Regions from separate parts of the Homo sapiens genome. Here all the other regions are reported to be linked to region 1. The links are microRNA targets in miRTarBase. Many come from high-throughput screens and were not tested one by one. Region 1 holds a microRNA gene; each other region holds the end of a gene's coding sequence.

Region 1 (3,100 bases):
TCACGCCTGTAATCCCAATACTTTGGGAGGCTGAGGTGGGAGTATCGCTTGAGCCCAGGAGTTCAAGACTAGCCTGGGCGATATAGTGAGACCCTGTCTCTCTGTCTTTCTCTATATATACATATATAGAAAGAAATTCAGGGGCTGAAGATTTTTTTTTCACTGGTCAACGAAAGGGGCTTAAGATCAATGCTCAATTTGGAATGATTTCTCTCTCTCTCTCTTTCTCAGCCCTAGAGGCGAGACCTCCCATTTAGAAAGGGGTCCCTCCCACACTCTGCCCCTATTCCATACATTTTGTCCAGCAGGGACTAGAGTGAGCCCTAGGGGAAAGGAGGCCACTTAGATGGTTGCTTAGCAAAGCAGATTCTCTGTGTGGTCTGACCTGGCTCAGACGAAGGTCAAAGCCTCAGCTGATCCCTGCTCTGTACCCAGTGGCAGACAAAGTATTCGTGTGTTCAAGGCCTCTCTGGCTCAGTATCACCTTAACCTCCGCTTCTCCCCTACCCGCTCCTCTATCCACAAGTAACTAGCACAGAGGTAGGCACCCAGTAAATATGCTCTGATTGACAGAGTGTGGCAGATAAAAATGCTTATGCTCCTTAAAGAGGAGTACACACATTTAAGCATGGGGACCAGTTTGGTTGTATGATTGTATGTTCTTAAGCAGAACAAGGGCAGGGCATCAGAAAATTGGAGGAATGGTCTCCTGTATCTTTGTAAATGGATATGTGTATATATATTTGCCTCACAACTCAGCTTCTCCTTTAAGGAATATGATGGATCTATTTTGAAAGTAATGTCGGCCGGGCACGGTGGCTCACGCCTGTAATCCCAGCACTTTGGGAGGCCAAGGTGGGCAGATCACGAGATCAGGAGATCGAGACCATCCTGGCTAACACAGTGAAACCCGTCTCTACTAAAAATACAAAAAAATTAGCCAGGCAAGGTGGCGGGCACCTGTAATCCCAGCTACTTGGGAGGCTGAGGCAGGAGAATCGCTTGAACCTGGGAGGCAGAGCTTGCAGTGAGCTGAGATCGCACCATTGCACTCCAGCCAGGGTGACAGAGCCAGCCAGACTCCGTCTCAAAAAAAAAAAAAAAAAAAAGAAAGTAATGTCTAGTCATATGGACTTGCTAGAGTGCCAAATATGTCCTTGGTGGGGGAACAGTTTCCCAAAATGCTACTAAAAAGATAGGAAGGAACTTAGATCCTCCTGTAATGTGTCTCTGTCCAAATCAGTGCCACTGAGGAACGCTAAAACCTTGGTAGGTGCCCTTCAGACCATGGGCCAGGTACGTGACCAAATGGTTCCATCTCTTACCAGAACAAGGATCGCCTAAATTGAGGTGTCACATGTGTTCTGCAACACCAGAGTTACTATGGAGCTCAGCTGAATTTGCGGGAAAATGCAGGGGGGGCTTTACCCGCATCTGCAAGAAGTTGGCTGAGTGGAAATAACCTAAATAAGGTGTTTTCCTGACTTGGGCATATCTCAAACTGGCCAATGCGTCTTGAGGCCCTGGGCGAGCATCCAAGTACCACCTTCCTGAATTGCTACTAGAGGAAAAGGAGCCTGTTTCAGCTTTCTATACTTCTTTAAATGTTACTTTGATTAGACATAGATAGCAGTTTGTTTACTAATATTACTATTATAACTCTGTCGTGGTTATATTTTTTAGTTATACTTTCTCTTTTCTTTGCCAAGAGCAAATGAAAACACATTTGCACTGCAGATCCAACTGAAGTTGTACAAAGGTTTCCCAGATATGTTTGAAAAAGTATTCTAGGCCCACTGCTGGCCAAATAGGAAGTCTTCCCCCACCCTTATGTCAGGGGTTCATGCTTTAAAAAAAATACAAACTCTTTTTAAAAATAAAATGTTTTATTATTGCTATAAAAGCAATGCATTTTATTGTTTATGCAAATATTACTTGGAAAATACATAAAAGTATAAAGAGAAAAACAAACATTACCTATAATTTTATACTATAATACTGTTACAAGTTTTGGTATATTTCTTCCTAGACTTTTCTCCATATGTTGATACAAAACTATGGATGCAAAATGATCCCAATACACTTATATTACATATTCAGGAACATATTGCAAAAATAATTCTGCATCTTACATTTATCACAGAAGTAAACCACAGATAGCCGCTGTTAGATTTTTTGCTTATTCCCTCCATCTTTTCATCTGTATATTGATACAAAACTATACATGCAAAATGTTCCCAATATATTTATAGTGCATATTAGGAACACATCGCAAAAACAGTTTAGTATCGTTTTTGATTGCCTATAGTGACACAAGTCAGCGATAACCACCTCTAGACTTTTGGTATACTTCCTGATAGCCTCTTTTCCCCATATTATTGATACAAAACTATGAATGCAAAATGTCCCCAATACATTTATATTACATATTAGGAACACATCGCAAAAATAGTTTAGCATCTTTCTTTGGTCACCTTTATACCACAACTCAGAGATAATCACAATAAAGTTTTTATATGTTTCCTCCTAGCCTTTTATCTGTATGTTGATACAAAACTATTCATACAGAATGCTCCCTATATACCTATATTGCAGAGATGGGAAAATATTTTGCACCTTTTTTCAATCGCTAAATGTTTTATCAGGAGCACATTCTCATGACATGAAAATTACTTTCAGAAACATTATTTTACATGAAAGCATCCTATTCTATTGTACTAGCTAGCTACGCTGTATTTTATTTGTCTAATCCTTTGTTGTTGGTCATTCAGGATGTTCCTAACTTCCATCCTTAAAATATTGAAATGAGCATCTTTATGCATTTTTTTTAACTGGGGCTTTCTGTTCATGTAGTTTTTATGGTTTTTCTTGACCACTTGTGTGGACTCAACATACTAAAAATGACCCTGTGTCTGTAATGCTTATAGCAAAGTGTTTTCCAGTTGTTTGCTTGAGCATAAATTCTTTATTTTAGCATTCTAGCACAAGTATAAAATCATATACCTTATGTAAGTTTCAATTCATTCAACAAACATTTAAAGCAATAAAGACACAAATAAAGGCATTCCCATTACACTCCTATGAAAACACAACTCATCCT
Region 2 (3,100 bases), not on the chromosome of region 1:
TGGCCTGGGCCATGTAACTGCTTCTCCTGTCGCAGCTTCCCCCACTCCCCCCACCAAGGGGCACCTCCCTTCTGGAGGCCTGGGACCCTCGTGACTCCCTTTCTTGTCCCTGGACAGCGCCAAGCAGAGCGGATGTCTCAGATCAAGAGACTCCTCAGTGAGAAGAAGACCTGCCAGTGTCCTCAGTAAGGATCTGGGAGGAGGGGTTGAGAGAGGGGAAAGGGGGAGGGGGAGGGAGTTAGAGAGGAGGGGGAGGAAGGGGAGCAAAGGGGGGCAGGAAGGGAGGATGGAGAGGAGGAAGGAGTTGAGGAGGAAGAGCTGGGAGGGGTGGAGGTGAGGAGATGGGGGCTAAAGGGGTGTGGTGGAGAGGATAGAGGGGTGGGAAAAGATGGCCAGGAGCTAGAAGGAGGCAGAAGTGGGAGGATGGAGCTGAAGGAGCAGCAGGCCAGGAAAGGCCCTGCTGGAAAGCCACTGGAGCTGTGCTGCGCTGGAAAGGCCATTGGAGGTGCTAGAACGCAAAGGGGTTGCAGTGGGGACAGACCTGCTCCCCTTCTTCTTTGTTCCTGCAGCCGGTTTCAGAAGACATGTAGCCCCATTTGAGGCACGAGGCCAGGCAGATCCCACTTGCAGCCTCCCCAGGTGTCTGCCCCGCGTTTCCTGCCTGCGGACCAGATGAATGTAGCAGATCCCCAGCCTCTGGCCTCCTGTTCGCCTCCTCTACAATTTGCCATTGTTTCTCCTGGGTTAGGCCCCGGCTTCACTGGTTGAGTGTTGCTCTCTAGTTTCCAGAGGCTTAATCACACCGTCCTCCACGCCATTTCCTTTTCCTTCAAGCCTAGCCCTTCTCTCATTATTTCTCTCTGACCCTCTCCCCACTGCTCATTTGGATCCCAGGGGAGTGTTCAGGGCCAGCCCTGGCTGGCATGGAGGGTGAGGCTGGGTGTCTGGAAGCATGGAGCATGGGACTGTTCTTTTACAAGACAGGACCCTGGGACCACAGAGGGCAGGAACTTGCACAAAATCACACAGCCAAGCCAGTCAAGGATGGATGCAGATCCAGAGGTTTCTGGCAGCCAGTACCTCCTGCCCCATGCTGCCCGCTTCTCACCCTATGTGGGTGGGACCACAGACTCACATCCTGACCTTGCACAAACAGCCCCTCTGGACACAGCCCCATGTACACGGCCTCAAGGGATGTCTCACATCCTCTGTCTATTTGAGACTTAGAAAAATCCTACAAGGCTGGCAGTGACAGAACTAAGATGATCATCTCCAGTTTATAGACCAGAACCAGAGCTCAGAGAGGCTAGATGATTGATTACCAAGTGCCGGACTAGCAAGTGCTGGAGTCGGGACTAACCCAGGTCCCTTGTCCCAAGTTCCACTGCTGCCTCTTGAATGCAGGGACAAATGCCACACGGCTCTCACCAGTGGCTAGTGGTGGGTACTCAATGTGTACTTTTGGGTTCACAGAAGCACAGCACCCATGGGAAGGGTCCATCTCAGAGAATTTACGAGCAGGGATGAAGGCCTCCCTGTCTAAAATCCCTCCTTCATCCCCCGCTGGTGGCAGAATCTGTTACCAGAGGACAAAGCCTTTGGCTCTTCTAATCAGAGCGCAAGCTGGGAGCACAGGCACTGCAGGAGAGAATGCCCAGTGACCAGTCACTGACCCTGTGCAGAACCTCCTGGAAGCGAGCTTTGCTGGGAGAGGGGGTAGCTAGCCTGAGAGGGAACCCTCTAAGGGACCTCAAAGGTGATTGTGCCAGGCTCTGCGCCTGCCCCACACCCTCCCTTACCCTCCTCCAGACCATTCAGGACACAGGGAAATCAGGGTTACAAATCTTCTTGATCCACTTCTCTCAGGATCCCCTCTCTTCCTACCCTTCCTCACCACTTCCCTCAGTCCCAACTCCTTTTCCCTATTTCCTTCTCCTCCTGTCTTTAAAGCCTGCCTCTTCCAGGAAGACCCCCCTATTGCTGCTGGGGCTCCCCATTTGCTTACTTTGCATTTGTGCCCACTCTCCACCCCTGCTCCCCTGAGCTGAAATAAAAATACAATAAACTTACTATAAAGATGCTCTTCGTGTGTGTGTGTGTGTGTGTGTGTGTGTGTGTGTGTGTGTGAGAGAGAGAGAGAGAGAGAGACCCCTTCTCTGGGGACCAGGAATCTTCTGGTCTTTGGGGTCGGACCCAGAGGAGAGGTTGCTGGGCGTGCCCCAGGAAGGAGATGAAGTTTCCCTGGAGAGGGAAAAATTCTGTGGAGGCTGGCTACCCACCTCCACAACCCACAGGGCTCTGTGTGGGCCTGTGTGTGTGTGAGGCTGAGACTCTGTAATTACATGTGTGTGATATACCGTGGGGGAGAGACTCAGGGTTGTGTGAGCTCTCCTGGTGTATGTGTGTGGCAGAGAAAAAGGACTATGAGAAACTGTAACATGTGTGTGCAAATTGTATCCCCAACATATGTGTTTGTGTTCCAGGAGGAGGAGGCAGAGTGTGTGTGTCTGTGTGCATGCATGCGCCCACATCCTTTTAGCTTGTGCACAACCACCCCCAACTCCACAAGCAGCCCCAGTGTGCACCACAAGCCCCCTCACTCCCAAACCCAAGGCCCAGCCCTCACACAGATACACACAGTGACACACGCTTCCTCCTCCCCGAACAGCTAGCTCCTCAGTCCCCAACAACACCAGCTGCCTCTTGGAGCTTGTGTTCGTGTTGAAAACGGGAAGGGGTGGGGGCAGGACATGAACCATTTCACCAATGAAGCCGGTTCCCAGCCATCCTCCTCACCGCCCTCCCTCTCAGCGCCTTCCTTGCCCCTCCTCCCCGAGTCACCACCGTCCAGTTCCCCACCCTGCACTCGTTTCCCGCCCCCCCCCGCCCCCCACAAAGCTGTCCTGCCTTCCCTCTGGCCTGGGCTCACTGGCAGGACGACCCCGGGAGAGAGGGTCCTGGAGAGTGAGAGGGGCAGAGACCGAGTGAGCCGTGGGCTGAGCCTGGGAGGCCGGGACTGAGGGGGAGGAGGGAGGCCCGGGGGAAGGGAGGGAGGGAGAGAGGGAAGGAGGGAGGAGGGCGGGCGAGCTGGAGCCGGCAG
Region 3 (3,091 bases), not on the chromosome of region 1:
AAATTTGTAGAAAAGCATTTTGTTATTTGACAAAGAACATATTTCAATGTATTTGAGTGCTAACTTTATTACAAAATTCATTGAAAATGCTAAAAATTCAAATGTGACTTCTTATATCCTGATCATAGTCCTATGGTCTTTTTGCCTTTTTTTTGTTGCAGTTTACCAAATTCGCAAAGTTTGGGCTGGTATGGCACCATGACTGGGTGTGGCAGCAGCAGTTACACAGTCACTCCCCACCTGAATGGACCTATGACAGATACTGCTCCTTTGCTCTTTACTTGTAGTAATTTAGATTTGAACAATCATCATAGCTTATATGTGACACCACAAAACTGACAGCATCACCAAGTCATGATTCTTGAGTTGTTTTTCATAAATGTGTATATTCAATGTGTTTAAATTCCATCTACATAAACATTCCATTATCTGTTGCAACTGAAAACAAAATCTGGAAGTGTGGCTGTGTTTGGTAAATAACACAGCTATTATTTTTGACCTCTTCATAGTAAAATGAAGTAAAATGGAAAGTTTGGAGTAGGAGAAAAGAGAGATTAGATCTTAAGGCACTTGATGGCCTCCAAAAATCCTGACTTTGGAACATCAAATGCATATGTGCACTTTTATCTTTGTTCTGAGTCACTGCAGTCCCCAAAGTCATATGCCAATGTTCACACTGAAATACTGTATTGTACACCAAACTGGAAGGCAATTTTCCTATGAAAATCAAAGCCGGTATATTCATTGGTATGCTCTATACAGATATCTTAATAAAAATTTTATAGTGTGAACAGTGCACAGAGTTAAGGCATAAAAATGTATCATTCTTTATAAAAATCTACTGAAAATGTGTAATCATTGAAGACAGTTCTTTTAAGCATGATTTTAAAATAGCAACTGAAATTCAATCATTTTAAACAAATGATGGTAGTAATCCATTAGTTATGGCCAGCAGTGTTCTTTGGAGAGCCACAATAATTTCAAGAGGAAAATATACCAGTGAAAATTGTGTGGCTATTTTGAGTAGAATTGGTCAGTTGATTATTTTGTGTAATTGAGATATATGTAGTAGTTTAAGCATGATTCTTGAAGAAAGCAATAGTGACTTTTGCATAGGGAGATTTTGGTAGAAACTTCTTGGGACTAAACAAGTTTAGAGATGCATTTAAGAATTATTCACAAAATGTGTAATTCTAAATTAAAACATAAATATATTTTCAAAAGCATTTGATTTCTCTGAAGCATGATATAGCTGGTCTTACCTAGTGAATCAGGATTGTCCTCAGGTAAATGAAATCATGATACATTATTGCAGTGAACTCAAGTGCAATACTTTGTAAGACATATAATTCCTATGATTTTCACATTTTTATATCTTATATATGGGAAAAGCCAAATTAAATTGAATTCAGATTAATTCCAGCATTAGACTAAATGAGCAAACTTAAGTAAATGTACAAACTAGGTAAGTATAAAACCACAGGTTAACAATATTGGAGTACTTTTAGAATTACATTAAAACTGTCTTAAATGTCCTATCCCAAATCTAAAAAAAAAGAAAATGGCAGGCTGAGATAATACAGAATTTTAAAATGCACTTTGTACCAGTGTCTATATGGAAAGAAGTAGATGCTGAATACCTCAAGATGCCAAGGGAACAAGCAACATTGGGAAGTTGTCACAACATGCTCAAAGACAAACTACAATTGTCTGCTAGCTATTTCTTCAGAACTGGAACTAATACGACTATCCTTTTCTGTTTTATACTTTGATTAGAATGTTATTTCCTCGCTTACTTAAAATGTACTTCAACTTTTTAACAACTGATACAATAACTTCATAAAAGTATAACACTAGGTTGAAACCTTAAGGAAAAATTGAAATTGTTAATGCTTTCGATCTTTTGGGAGGCCAGTACACAGACAAATAAATTTCTTCTTTTTATGATACAAAATGACTTTGTATTCAATCAGAAGCATATACTTATGTTATTTTGGGTTTGTTTATAATTCTCTCATTGTAACCAAATTATTTTAAAATGTATAGTATAAAAAGTTACCCGTGGTATTAAGTGACAAAAGCGTACTTTTATTACAACTCCAGTTGTTAGATTGCTTCTCAGAATGCTAACTGTTTATTTTGCTAATAATGTTAGGCATCTAATCATCTAGAGCTGTCCAAAAAGATATGTTGTCTTTGTTAATCCTTGGGGTTCAAGGTGATAAAGTTTTTCTAGTAAGGCTCCCCTCGATAATGTTCCTATTTGACCAAACTAACAAAGATTACTTTTTAAAAATTTTTCAGATAAAATAACTTGGTTCTTTCTGCTGCATTAGTTGATTGTTCCAAATTTGAGGTTTGTAAGTTTATTCTTATCACTGACTAGGGTACCCAAATTCTTGCATTTGTCTCCTTATACACATCTAACATATCACCAAAGACAAATAAAGATACACTCTGGCCCAATCTTTGCTTAAAAATTCCAAAGCACTAGGAGCACTTTAAGTTTGGTCTCGAAAGGAGTTGTTTATAAAATCAAAGGGCTACCGATTCCCTGTTCATCCTGCACTGAAGCACATGATGACAGTATCAAACCTTCATTTTTGTTCATTAAAAAGTGAATTTCATTACTTAAGTGTGTAATTCTATAGTGATTAGCAGTATTTGTTTTCATCATTTCACTTGGGTGGCCATTAATTTTGAAACCTTTACCACTCATTGTAGTTGGTTGTAGTTTTATGGAAAATGTAATTTATAGCTAAAGTGGCTTTTTTATGCATAGCTGCCTTTTTTATTGTTTAACAGTGTTTCTCAGCTATATAATCAGTTTCAAACTGGTTGTAAAAGTATAGCTGTGGCCAATGAATGTATTTATTTGTTGTTTCACTAAATTGTAACAAAACACTACTATTAAAAATAAAAGTGTTTGTGCTTTTATTTAGAGTTCTGGTTTTCTTCATCTCTTATAATGGACTATACTGAGTTTCTATCATATAAGAATAAGAACATAGTGCTACCACAAAAAAAAAAAAAATCAGGAGTTACAAATGATAGTTCGCCTTTAGTGATCTCATAATTACTTACATCTGGA
Region 4 (3,100 bases), not on the chromosome of region 1:
TCCAAGGTTACAGAGGCTTGGAGCTCTGGATTCAAACCCAAGTCACTGTGACTCAAGACCAGTGTTTTTCCCCGTTACAAGCAGACACAAAAGAATAACAATCCTTTATCATTTATACTGTATTCTCACGTTACATTATTTCATTTGATCCTCACAACAGCCCTGTGAGGTAGGTAGGGTTATGTATTACTGTTATGCCTATTTCACAGATGAAGAAATGGAGGTGGCTCAGTGAGGTGAGTGACTTGCATAAAGTCACACAGCATGTTAGTGGCTTCACTGCTTCTGCAACTTCTCTAAAGTCAAGCTGCTTGGATTAGGGAGCACCGAAAAGATGGACAGTTTTATGGAAAAGGAGAAAGGGCAGTGGTGATTTGTAAGATTTCTTCCTCAAATTGTTTTGTTATGACCACAGCTTCTGCTACTTGGTCTAAACTAGGTTCTCCATGAGGGGCTCTCCCAAGTACCCTTGGCCTGGGACAGCTGTCTTTTTTTGGGATGGAGTCTCTCTGCAATGGCACACTCTCAGCTCACTGCAACCTCTGCTATCTGGGTTCAAGCGATTCTACTGCCTCAGCCTCCCAAATAGCTGGGGTTATAGGCGCCTGTCACCACACCCAGCTAATTTTTGTATTTTTAGCAGAGACGACGTTTCACCATGTTGGCCAGGCTGGTCTTGAACTCCTGACCTCAAGTGATCTTCCCGCCTCGGCCTCCCAGAGTGTTGGGATTACAGGCATGAGCCACTGTGCCTGGCAGAAAAGCTGTCAGAGAGACTCCTGGGTCCCACCGTAGGGGGAAAAGGGCCTTTACTGCTCAAGGGAACTGGCGCTGCCCATGGCCCAGTGTACAAGCTCCCTACTCACAGGGCCTATCTATGGGAAGCCCCTTTCTGGGCCCACCTCCCATGGGTGCCTGTGTCACCAGGCTTCCTTGGCTTTGAGGACCCCTGCCCAGTGGGGGAGGACCCTGGGGACTCTCAAGGCCAAACTCACTTTAGGGATGAATCATGACGTGCAGTTTGGAGGCCTGCATGGCTCATCACCCGGTGGGAAGCAGTGCTTGGGTTGCTTGCCCTGGATGGCACCCTACAGAGACCCAGGGGTGGGACACAGGACTGCAGGGGAAGGCCGCCTTCCTGAGGGCAGGGTCTTAGGGGCCGCACATTTACTCTAAGGGCACTGTTACGGTTCATACCACTCCTGGGCTCCTTGCTGCACAGCACCCTTGGAGACCGTCTCTTTCCTCTGGATCTCCTCAGGGGCCGTGAATCTTCCTCTTCCAGCAGAAAATGGTCGAAAGGTATATGGAGCCACAGATGGTGGGGAAGGTGGGTGAAGTGGGGGTCACAAACGAGGTGAAGCTACAACAAAAGGGGACTGACTTACAGGGGATAGAAAAGAGCTAACTTTGATTCTGAAGACAGATCCCAGAGGGGAATCTGAATTCTGAGTAATGATGTTTTCAGAAAAATGTCTGGTCTCTCAAGGTGACTATTTTGAAAGCAAAGATATATAACTGGGTGAATGGGAAGGTCTGCAACCAAGATCCAGCAAGTGGCAGGACAGATTTTGGCTCAATATAGGGAAGAACTGTCTAACAGTCAGCACTGTCCAACCACAGCAGGAGCTGCCTTGGGGATGGCGCGCTTCCTATCAGCCAAGGTATGCAAGCAGGCCAAGGTGATCACTTGCAGGTACCCAGGGAGAGGCGCTCATCTTCAGATGTGCTGGGGTGTTCTAGGGGTGGGGGAGGACTAAGCAATCATCGAATTATTTCCAACCCTGAGAATCCGTAATAGATTTGTTTAAAATGACCTGTTTCAATGATACCTCAAATTTTTGGGAAAACAATGACAAAAGTCAGGTAACAGGCTGGATTTGGAAGTGATTTCATTACACTGGCTACAGATACTTGCACATTTTTGCAAAGATAGCAGACCCTTTCTAAAGCCAGGAATCCCTTGATTCAGCCCTATCAAGAGGGACATTCCTACCTTCTGAACTCTGCCTGGACACTCATTCCTCTAGACCCTGCCACACCTCATCTCTGACCCCCAAGAGGGGACACTAACAGAGCTCTGAGAATGCACAGCATTCCAAGCCAGCCAAACATGGTCACCCCTGGGCAAACATCCACGATCATGGATGCACCCTGGGGAGGGAGGAGCAGGTGTGACAGGAACCGCTGGGGACTTTATGTCCTGGTTAACTGGAGGTAGCCTCTTGTTCTCATCCCATCCTCTCCACCAGGGCCTTCTTACAGATGGATAAATGCGGCACTGGCTAGCGGTACAGAGAGATGGAGCCCAGGAGAAAACTGCTGCTCTTTTGTCCTGGCTGGAAAATCCTCCTATGGCCTCCTTTAGTACACATCAGCTGACTCTTCACTTGTCATAATAAACCGCCTGTCTGCAGCTCAAAATGGCAAGAAAAAAGGTGGTTCTGTTCAGAGGACACTGGATTCCAAAAGGTGGACTTCATCATGGGGGGAATCAAGTCCTGCTACACAATTAATACAGATTAGTATAGTCCCCTGCCTCGCACCACTGGCGAGATGCCCTCCAAGACCTGGCTGACATGAGCTTCCTGGGACTCCCCATCTCCAGTGTTGTTGGGGTCCTTTTACCTGTACCGTATTAATCGAATAATCTTATTGTTCATAAAATCCAGAGCATGTGGGTGAGAAGAATCGATGCAGAAGCCATCGCTCAGAGCGATTTTCAGTACCTCTTCCACGAAGACCTGGAAGCTGTTGATCTGCTTGTTGGCGGGCACCACCCAGAGCCTCTTGAGGTTCTGCTTGGTGTACTCCTCCTCTGGCAGGCCCTCCACATTGGCCACCCAGTCCAGAGTCAGGTGGTTGGGGTCCTGCAAGTGGCTGGTGATGGAGGAGAGATTGCCATTGGAGCAGTAGAAGAGCTTAGAGCCAAGGAGCTTGAGGAAGAGGCAGGAGGTGCTGAAGATGTTGGCGTTGAAGACCTCCATGCTGGAAGAGGAGAGGCTGTAGATCTGGGGTGCCTCGCGCACAGTGAAGTGGACCGTCTGCACACGCTGGTTCAGTGTGATGTTGAGCATGGCATTCTTCTCGGCCTTGGAGA

The links. Region 1 holds the annotated microRNA hsa-miR-450b-3p (UUGGGAUCAUUUUGCAUCCAUA, at 2,057-2,078, opposite strand). A microRNA usually pairs through its seed, bases 2 to 8, with sites in the 3' UTR of a target mRNA and lowers its output. Matches are read on the target gene's strand: a 7mer-m8 pairs with bases 2 to 8, a 7mer-A1 pairs with bases 2 to 7 and ends in A, and an 8mer does both.
Region 2: the mRNA of CD4 is a reported target of hsa-miR-450b-3p. Seed matches in the 3' UTR shown: 7mer-m8 at 617-623 and 7mer-m8 at 887-893.
Region 3: miRTarBase lists GPR137C as a target of hsa-miR-450b-3p. Seed matches in the 3' UTR shown: 7mer-A1 at 1,538-1,544.
Region 4: miRTarBase lists KCTD21 as a target of hsa-miR-450b-3p. Seed matches in the 3' UTR shown: 7mer-A1 at 725-731 and 7mer-A1 at 494-500.

The regions. Positions count from the first base shown.
Region 1 is chrX:134,538,138-134,541,237 of GRCh38, forward strand. MIR450B (microRNA 450b) reads right to left here and starts at 2,125; the gene lies at 2,048-2,125. MIR450A1 (microRNA 450a-1) reads right to left here and starts at 2,294; the gene lies at 2,204-2,294. MIR450A2 (microRNA 450a-2) reads right to left here and starts at 2,470; the gene lies at 2,371-2,470.
Region 2 is chr12:6,818,730-6,821,829 of GRCh38, forward strand. CD4 (CD4 molecule) reads left to right here. Exons shown (of 10, transcript NM_000616.5): 9 at 118-185; 10 at 570-2,070. The coding sequence ends at 600. It overlaps GPR162 (G protein-coupled receptor 162), which reads left to right and starts at 3,092. Exons shown (of 5, transcript NM_019858.2): 1 at 3,092-3,100. RefSeq lists enhancers at 131-631, 632-1,132, 2,103-3,075.
Region 3 is chr14:52,634,777-52,637,867 of GRCh38, forward strand. It overlaps GPR137C (G protein-coupled receptor 137C), which reads left to right. Exons shown (of 7, transcript NM_001099652.2): 7 at 162-2,937. The coding sequence ends at 339. Among named protein-coding and RNA genes, the nearest start is that of ERO1A, 59 kb to the right of the region's middle.
Region 4 is chr11:78,171,148-78,174,247 of GRCh38, forward strand. KCTD21 (potassium channel tetramerization domain containing 21) reads right to left here. Exons shown (of 2, transcript NM_001029859.3): 2 at 102-3,100. The coding sequence ends at 2,625. KCTD21-AS1 (KCTD21 antisense RNA 1) reads left to right here. Exons shown (of 3, transcript NR_102281.1): 3 at 2,673-2,830. Among named protein-coding and RNA genes, the nearest start is that of KCTD21, 16 kb to the right of the region's middle. RefSeq lists an enhancer at 2,692-3,100.